Regions from separate parts of the Homo sapiens genome. Here region 1 is linked to region 2. Evidence: fine-mapped expression QTL. A gene starts in region 2. The other region holds a variant in brackets. All regions are shown on one strand. Distances are between the middles of the regions.

Region 1 (4,400 bases), 74 kb before region 2:
TCAGCTTTCTGCATATGGCTAGCCAGTTTTCCCAACACCGTTTATTAAATAAGGGATCCTTTCCCCATTTCTTGTTTTTGTCAGGTTTGTCAAAGATCAGATGGTTGTAGATGTGTGGTGTTATTTCTGAGGCCTCTGTTCTGTTCCATTGGTCTATATATCTGTTCTGGTACCAGTACCATGCTGTTTTGCTTACTGTAGCCTTGTAGTATAGTTTGAAGTCAGGTAGCATGATGCTTCCAGCTTTGTTCTTTTTGCTTAGGACTGTCTTGGCTATGTGGGCTGTTTTTTGGTTCCATATGAACTTTAAAGTAGTTTTTTCCAATTCTGTGAAGAAAGTCAATGGTAGCTTGATGGGGATAGCATTGAATCTATAAATTACTTTGGGCAGTATGGCCATTTTCACGATATTGATTCTTTCTATCTATGAGCATGGAATGTTTTTCCATTTGTTTGTGTCCTCTTATTTTGTTGAGCAGTGGTTTGTAGTTCTCCTTGAAGAGGTCCTTCACACCTGTTGTAATTTTGATTCCTACGTATTTTATTTTCTTTGTAGCAATAGTGAATGCAAGTTCACTCATGATTTGGCTCTCTGTTATTGATGTATAGAAATGCTTGTGATTTTTGCACATTGACTTTGTATCCTGAGACTTTGCTGAAGTTGCTTATCAGGTTAAGGAGATTTGGGGCTGATATAGTTGGGTTTTCTAAATATACAATCATGTCATCTGCAAACAGAGACAATTTGACTCCCTCTTTTTCTAATTGAATACACTTTATTTCTTTCTCTTGCCTGATTGCCCTGGCCAGAACTTCCAATACTATGTTGAAATGGTGTGTGCCAGTTTTGTCTTGCACCAGTTTTCAAAGGGAATGCTTCCAGTTTTTGACCATTCAGTATGATATTGGCTGTAGGTTTGTCATAAATAGCTCTTATTATTTTGAGATACCTTCCATCAACACCTAGTTTATTGAGAGTTTTTAGCATAAAGTGCTGTTGAATTTTGTTGCATGCCATTTTTATCTCTATTGAGATAATCATGTGGGTTTTGTCATTGGTTCTGTTTATGTGATGGATTCTGTTTAATGATTTGCGTATGTTGAACCAGGCTTGCATCCCAGGGATAAAGCTGACTTGATCATGGTAGATAAGCTTTCTGATGTGCTGCTTCATTCGCTTTGCCAGTACTTTATTGAGGATTTTTGCATCGATGTTCATCAGGGATATTGGCCTAAAATTTTCTTTTTTTGTTTTGTCTCTGCCAGGTTTTTGTATCAGGATGATGCTCATAAAATGAGTTAGGGAGGATTCTATTTTCTATTGTTTGGAATAGTTTCAGAAGGAATGGTACCAGTTCCTCTTTGTACGTCTGGTAGTATTTGACTGTGAATCTGTGTTGTCCTGGACTTTTTTTGGTTTCACCATTTTTGTTTTTTTCTCCCCCTTTAAAAGGTATGAAATAATAAAGCTCTCTTTCAACTCATGTTCAGCTCAGTTAAGTTATTTTTCCCCACAGTTCTGTTTGTTGTGGCCTGGTGCTAACAATATTTTCTTAAAGGTCTAAAGGAAATGTTTTCTTCCAACATAATATCCTGTACACTGCAGAAGGTCTTTTCTTTTGCCTTTTGGTAACTGGCCTCACAGATTTTACGTCTTATTGAAATAATTCCTATGCCATTATTATTAAGTTTTACTTTGCTTAGGAAAAAAACCTGATAATTGTTTTTTTTTAAAATTAAGGTTATTACATCCGTGTATCTTTCTGTATGTGCTTTTAAAGTACTTGTAACACTAAGTTACAGGGATTTGACTCCTGGGTCTAAAATGGACACAAAGCCCTGCTAAGTCTTAAACACTGACAGCAGTTAAATC[C/T]TCATCTTCAGGCCCCATAGAGGATGCCAATCAAAATAAACTGCATTCCTGAGACAGAGGGCCAGAAATTAACACCATTCAACTCCTCAAGGTCCAGGGACTATTGAGGAAGAGGTGGGTGTGTGAGATTGTAAGGGCCCATTTTAAGACATAAAATAAGTACAGTTTCTCTATAAATTAACCATTAATATCAATGGCACACTGATGCAAGACCAGCATATGAGCCCCTGTGTCAGATTAATATGGTTTGTTTTTTAAGCATTAACCAAAACATTAATAAAGATTATAAAAGGCTTATGGAAGTTATAGCTTATGATCAAGATTAAAATTTTATATATTTATAAAAATTTGAAAAACAAATTTAATTGACTTCATGTTGTTTTTATTAGGGTTTATTGTTTGGAAAATTGTTTCCTCTCTCAAAATAAAAGTTTTGCACCTTTTTTTTTTTAAAATCCTTCAGTTATCACTTTGGTTAAATGAATGACTTATTTTACAATGACCTGTGATCCTATTTTGTAATATCAAGTGTTTTAAAGTTTTGATATTTGACAAACTTTCCAAAATCAAATTATAAATTATGTCTTTTTCTGACCTAATTAATCCTTTAAGATATTCCCGGTTCCTTAAAGTCCAAAAATGACATATTTGGCTTATTTGGTATAAAAATTATATAGGAAGCATTGTCAAACATGAAATGGTGTTTGGTTTTCTTTGGGCTGTATTTGTATAAAGATGTTATTGGCATGTGTTCAAAAATTATGGGAAACTCCTATAATTCTTTTTTTTTTTTTTTTTTTGAGATGGAGTCTCACCCTGTCACCCAGGTGGAAAACTCCTATAATTCTAATATGAATTAGTGTATGTTATCAGTAATAATTATAATTTTTATGGTAAATTATTGTGTGCCATAAGGTAACAAATTTCCTTGTCAATTGTATCTTTATGGCTGCCCTAAAACTTTTTGTCATCCATGAATGATTGTTGTCTTATTTTGGTCCTCTTTAAAAGGTGGTTTTATAATCAGCTATAAACTCTAACAGGTGCCCTTGAATGCAGGTTTCTGATTACTTTGGAGATTGTAACATTTGAACAGAGGAAAAACTTTCAGGACTCATGAAGAGCTGAAATGTTTATGACTATCAAGCAGAACAGGAATTAACCGCAGGGACTAAACTAATAGAAGTTTAAAGTAATCTTTTTAACTTTTTGTTTAAAACGTTGCTGATCCTTTGTTTTTCAGAGTCAAGAAAACTTTTAAGCTATTTACAGCTTTTAACAGTTAAGTGTACTCCTATGAACAAAAGTTGGAGCATATGTGTTTCTGTCTACCTGATTTCTACAGAATTTGGAAACTATTTGTGAGTATTCTTATGACAATACAATTATTTGCATAAGTGCAATAAGAATCTTTCTTCATTTTTAACAGGACACAATTGGAGAAACTGGTTATTTTACCAAGGCTTTGACTAAAATGGTGTGCTTTCATTTAAGGAATCAAACTTGACTTATGGAGCCAATAAAAGCCCCTTGGAAAAATTGGCCTCGTACCTTTTTCTACACAGTCCCTTTACAGGGTTCCTGACCTGTGGTAGGTAAAGAATGTCACTTTCTGACAGACCCAAGAGCCCCAAGTTTATCTTGGAACATTGAGAGGAGAGGAATTCACAACTCATAGGTATTTGATGGTACAAATCCATGGCTGGGCTTGGCTTTAAAAAAGTCATATCTGAGATTCCTTCTATGGACTAAAGTTCCATCAAAGCCAATTTAAATGCCTATGTAAAATAAAATTATTCTTGATACATTGTATACAAATAATCAGGTGAAGTGTAATAAAGCAAATCAGTCTTACCATGATTTGTCTTTAATAAAAATGGGAAACTGGATAAAGAAAAATTATGTTTAAAAAACTATAGTACACCCGTTGTTAGATTCTAGTCTTGCCTATTGTTTTTCAATTTTTATTATTTTCTACAGTTTGGACTGAATTCTAATTCTATTTTTTCTTTTTTCTTTTTGAGACAGAGTCTCCCTCTGTTCCCCAGGCTGGAGTGTAGTCACATGATCTTGGCTCACAGCAACCTCTACCCCCTGGGTTCAAGCAATTCTCCTGCCTCAGCCTCCTAAGTAGCTGGGATTACAGGCACCTGCCAGCATGCCTAGCTAGTTTTTTGTATGTTTAGTAGATACGGGGTTTTGCCATGTTGGCCAAGCTGGTCTCAGACTCCTGACCTCAGGTGATCCACCTGCCTCGGCCTCCCAAAGTGCTGGGATTACAGACATGAGCCACCGTGACTGGCCTGAATTCTAATTTTTCTTGGCTACATGCCTGCAAAATAATGTTTTCAATTTTTTTTCCTTCTTTTTTCTCCATTTTTCCTAATTTGGAGTCACTGAAAACTAAGCTATACTTTTTTTTAAAGCCCTGCGAACTGAAGCTAAATAACTTAAACTTTAGAGGAAAATAATAGCAACCTATTTACGTACATAAGCCACTTTCATACCTGCCTACTAATATATGGAC
Region 2 (4,400 bases):
TGTCTATCTCAATTAAATAGTATTGTCTCTTTTCAGAAGATGGAGTTGGGAGAAAACACTGGGCAGCCTCTCAGCGCTCAACTCCCCAAACTGACCAGAATCTCCTTCAGCTGGATTTATAAAAAATGGTGAAATATAACTTTATTATTGCTTTTTTTTAAAAAAAAAGCTCCATGGGAAAGGATAAAAAATTTGATCACCTCTATATTTTAGTTATTGCTTTCTTTAGCTTTCAGAACTATGTGTAAGCTAACTGACTTTATGGATTTTCTCCAACTTTTCCTGAAGTATGAGGATTTTTCTAAAGGCCATGGGGAATCTGAACTTCGAAACTTAAATTCAACCTACAGGAGTCTTAGCTGCAGGGCTTAGGTGAACCGAGTGAGCCTGAGGGGACAGCAGTAGGATGGGAACTAGGCAGAACCTGGAAGGGCATTACTCAAACTGAGTAGTGCTGAGATCAGTTTGACTAAGGAGAGAGTCAAACTTAATTTTGAGAGGAATCAAGGTGACAGCCAGTATAGATAAGGTGAAGATCCGAACGGGAGGGTAGTGAACTTGGTAATGAGGTGAGTTAAGTAAAGGCAGAAGAGGGAAGAGTAAGGAATGGGTCTCTTAGGAGAGGGCCTGTGAATAAGCCAATTACTTTTTAACATAGTCCTTGGCATTATAGTAGGGATGAGCTCAGTGGCTTAAAAGAACCACATCAGTTTGTACAAAAAAGGAAGTCATAAAGAATATTTTAGGAGCTAGTATGTGGGCACCAATGTTGCTTGTCACAGTCATAGAGCTGTTGATTAGAATTGTGTTTAGTCTGAAGTAGGAATTGAGACTCACTTGCCAGAGGTTTCTTGATACATAGTGAAGGTGTAATCTTACTGCTGTGATGTTCTCCTTGGTGCCCTCAAGAAGATGATGTGCAGCAACCTTGGTGAATGTGGTATAGGAATGAGAGAGTAGAATTTGTCACAAAACAACTCTTCCTTGAAAGTAACCCACCAATTGATGATTATTGTTCATTTGTTTAATATTTATACTGTATTTGTTTTTAGTAATTATATTTGAGGCAAGAAGTATATAAGTTAGGCATCATGGAATTTGGGATGCATTTGTCCTCCCATGAAGAATGGGTAACATTGTTTCTTCAAATTGAGGACTGGAAACCAATGATGGATAGGAGTTAGGAAAATGGGAGTGAGAAACATTGAAAAGGAAGGAGAGGTAGAAAAATAAAATGAAACAGTATGACTGAAAAAGAATTAGAGAGGAGACAAGACTGTGTTGAAGAGGGTTAGGGCTGAGCCAGATGGTGTTGGCATAAGAAATATAGAGTATATATCAAAAATATAGAAGGAGATTCTGTCTACATTAATATCTTTGACTATTTCAGCTATTATGTTGTTTTGGGACAATCAAAGATGGGAGAGACCGAACAGAGTGAGTTCAGGAAAGGTCTTTATTAAAAGGTGATCACCTGGCTCAGTAGGACTAGCGTCCAGGAAAGTCTGAGCCCTGGACAAAGAAAGCAGCCACCTTTTAAGCAGTCAGTGGCCAGGAGCTACGTGATGCAGGAAGCGTACTTACAAGAGCGAGAACAAAGGCAGTTGATCAGTCTTTTACATTTATCTATGCTACGTGTTCCACATCCCTGGGAAACCATGTTTCTGTATTAACCTTGTAACTTTGCAGCTGCGCTAGGGAGGTGAAACAGGAACTCCCTGAGCCTCAAGGAATGTGAAACTAGCAAGTACAGATAAGGCTTGCTGAGCACAGAAGGAAAAACACGCTGTTAGTATTCTTCTCTAACTTAGACTACAGGGGAGCTACACTACACTTAGCTTTTGAAGGGAAAAGTAAAAATTTTTGGTTGTCTTTGATTATACTTGTAAAATTCATGAATTCATTCTACAATGTCAGCAAAAAAAAAAAAAATCAGTTAAAACAGTTGTGGGTACTTACGTAACTTGAGTGTTAAAAAATGAAAGCTTCCCAAGAACTAGATCACTTGGCTTCTTCTGGATTGGGGGTGGGGATAATGTAGGCAGCCAATCAGAACGAAAGCAGGCTGGCAAGAAACCAATGAGAAGTAGGCATGGAAATGGATTTTGGTGTGATATCAGTTGGTAGTACTGTCCCTGGCAAACAGACGCATAACTGTGCATTGTTCTTTGGGATTTTGAGAGCCTTCATCTCAATTTCAACTTTAAAGCAGCTTAATCTTTAAGGAACATATCTCTGATCTGGGTAATTTGTAGAACTTAATTTGAGGGTCATTACATGTGAGGATAGCAGGAGTTGAAGATGCCAAGGACCTGAAGGGCTACTGGAGGGACAGGTGAAGTGATTTGAAGATGTAGCATTTTGAATCTCTTTCTGGCCCATCCTCTGCTTCACACCAGAATCATTGTGACCTGTAGACCTGCAAAACAAAGGACCAAAGGTAAGCCTTAAATATTATTGGAGATACTTGAGGAACCTCTAGGATTTTTAGATTAAGGCTAGCTGCAAGGAAAAATAAAACAGAACAAATCTTTCTCAGGACCACTGCATAGATTTGCACAGGTTACATCCTACACAGAGCACCAGCTGAGGTGAGATACTGGGGCTGAAATCCAGCCTGGTAGTCACATGCCAAGCCATGTGCCTTGTTGACAGGCTTCATTGCTCTGAGGAAGGGGGCCTTTTTCTAATTCACTCAAAGGCATCATATGATCAAACCTTGGTCTTTTCCTTTATTTTCAGGTTATTCACCCTTATCCTCACCCCCAACCTTAACTGGTGTGACTCAACTTTGACTTTGTTTCCCATTTGCCATCTTTTATTGGAAGGGTGCTGAGAGAAGAAAAAGATATATTAGGGCTGGAGTGGTAAAATGGAATTCCAGAATGATTTATACCAACAGAGAAGGGGGAGCATAACATTTATCCATGCTCCTTCCCCCTCAAATAGTTCAGCCCATCAAATATTTTTGGACAGCCTATCTCGTGCCACATGCTATGTGCACAGCCTTAAGGAAAGTTCGGGCCCTGGCCTTTGAGAAACTCACTGTCCAATGGGGAAAGCAAGCACATTACTATATCATTACAATGGTAAGTGCACCTATCAATGCACCCCCTCTCCCATATACATGTAACAGTACAGGGAGTAAACACTAACACTGCTGTTAGTGTTCCTATAAAATGTTCTTGGAGCAAGGGGTAGGACAAGAGGTATTAATGTGTGCCCTGTGACAAGAAGAGACATGTTCAGATCTGAGTGTGGCACAATCTTAGGTAGAAATGGTATGGATGAATTGGATCTTGGTAGGTCTCATGTTCTTTTTGCATGCTATACAGGTTAGCATGCAGAAGTGAAAGTGTCAATAATAACCAAACCACTCCATCAAGTTAGGTCTGGGGAAAAGCAGCAGCAAAAATGAGTTCTTACTTCTGGGCACAAAATGAAAGTAACAGACCTGATTTACTCTGCGGGCAGCCAGCTGACTACCTTGTTGAAGAGAAACATTTCACAACGCTTGTATGCTTCATTGTTGTTTTGGGAGGTAGGTGGTTGTTTTTGAAACTCATCTTTCCTCTGCCCTGTGAACCTTTTGTCAATGCAGAAAGCCATCACAACTACATAACATCAAAAGAAGGGGCCCATTGAAACGATAAGACATGAGTGAATACTGTCAATCTCGCTTCATTTAATTATAAGTAGTGTCTATTCTATATTCCTGTATTCAGTGACATTTGCTGAGCATGGTAGTGTGGTAGACATGTAAGAAGAATAACTTAACTTCAAGAAGCCCTCTCATGGGAGAGATTGGCAAACACATAATTACTATGCAGTGTGTTAAGTATAACTATAAAGTTGTCGTCAAGATTCTCTGCTCACAAGGAGGAGGAAGAGCTGTACACTGCCTGCCTGGCCAGACCTAACCTGACCAAAATATCTGAGATGAGGGGAGGACAATGCGAGCAAACACACAAATAGAGCCCAGGCATACAATTCATGATTTACATAATTGATGTCATTCATTTTGTCCATTTTATTATGGCTTTTGGTGTAATCTCTCTTCAGGGAAGATAAATAACCCACCCCAACCCCAAGAAGGAAATTAGGAAAGGCTTCACAAATAAGGACCTCTTAAACAATGATTAAGAATTCAACAGGTATAGAGAATGATATTCATGCAGATCAAGTAACATATTCAACACACAGATGCTTTAGTCCACAATTCAACACTAGGGATTAGGAAAAAGGAAAAATAGCTGCTTTAAAATCCTTTCTGGAACTAGGAATACTATACAGAAGCAAATATGTATAAACTCCTTCAATTTTACCCATTGTATCAAAGAGTGAAATTGCTTTCTTTGGGAATCTTTAATATACTCACTAATGACCTTGGTCACTTTTGA

Which allele goes with the higher level. Alleles are on the strand shown, and positions count from the first base shown. SD is a standard deviation of normalised expression in the study named.
As copies of C replace T in region 1, the expression in pituitary of the gene that starts at base 2,119 in region 2 goes down (large effect, 0.80 SD a copy in GTEx).

What was found. PIP is the estimated chance that this variant, and not a neighbour inherited with it, causes the effect. A credible set is the group of variants that fine-mapping cannot tell apart.
Region 1: its variant is the best candidate, but not a certain one, in a credible set for the expression of SLC9C2 in pituitary (GTEx, PIP 0.54).

What each region holds. Positions count from the first base shown.
Region 1 is chr1:173,675,108-173,679,507 of GRCh38, reverse strand. All of the region lies in intron 2 of LOC105371619 (a long non-coding RNA gene), which reads right to left. It also overlaps a transcript of ANKRD45 not described here. Among named protein-coding and RNA genes, the nearest start is that of ANKRD45, 7.5 kb to the right of the region's middle. The variant C/T (reference allele first, on the strand shown) is at 1,874.
Region 2 is chr1:173,600,791-173,605,190 of GRCh38, reverse strand. SLC9C2 (solute carrier family 9 member C2 (putative)) reads left to right here and starts at 2,119. Exons shown (of 28, transcript NM_178527.4): 1 at 2,119-2,440; 2 at 3,336-3,541. The coding sequence starts at 3,415.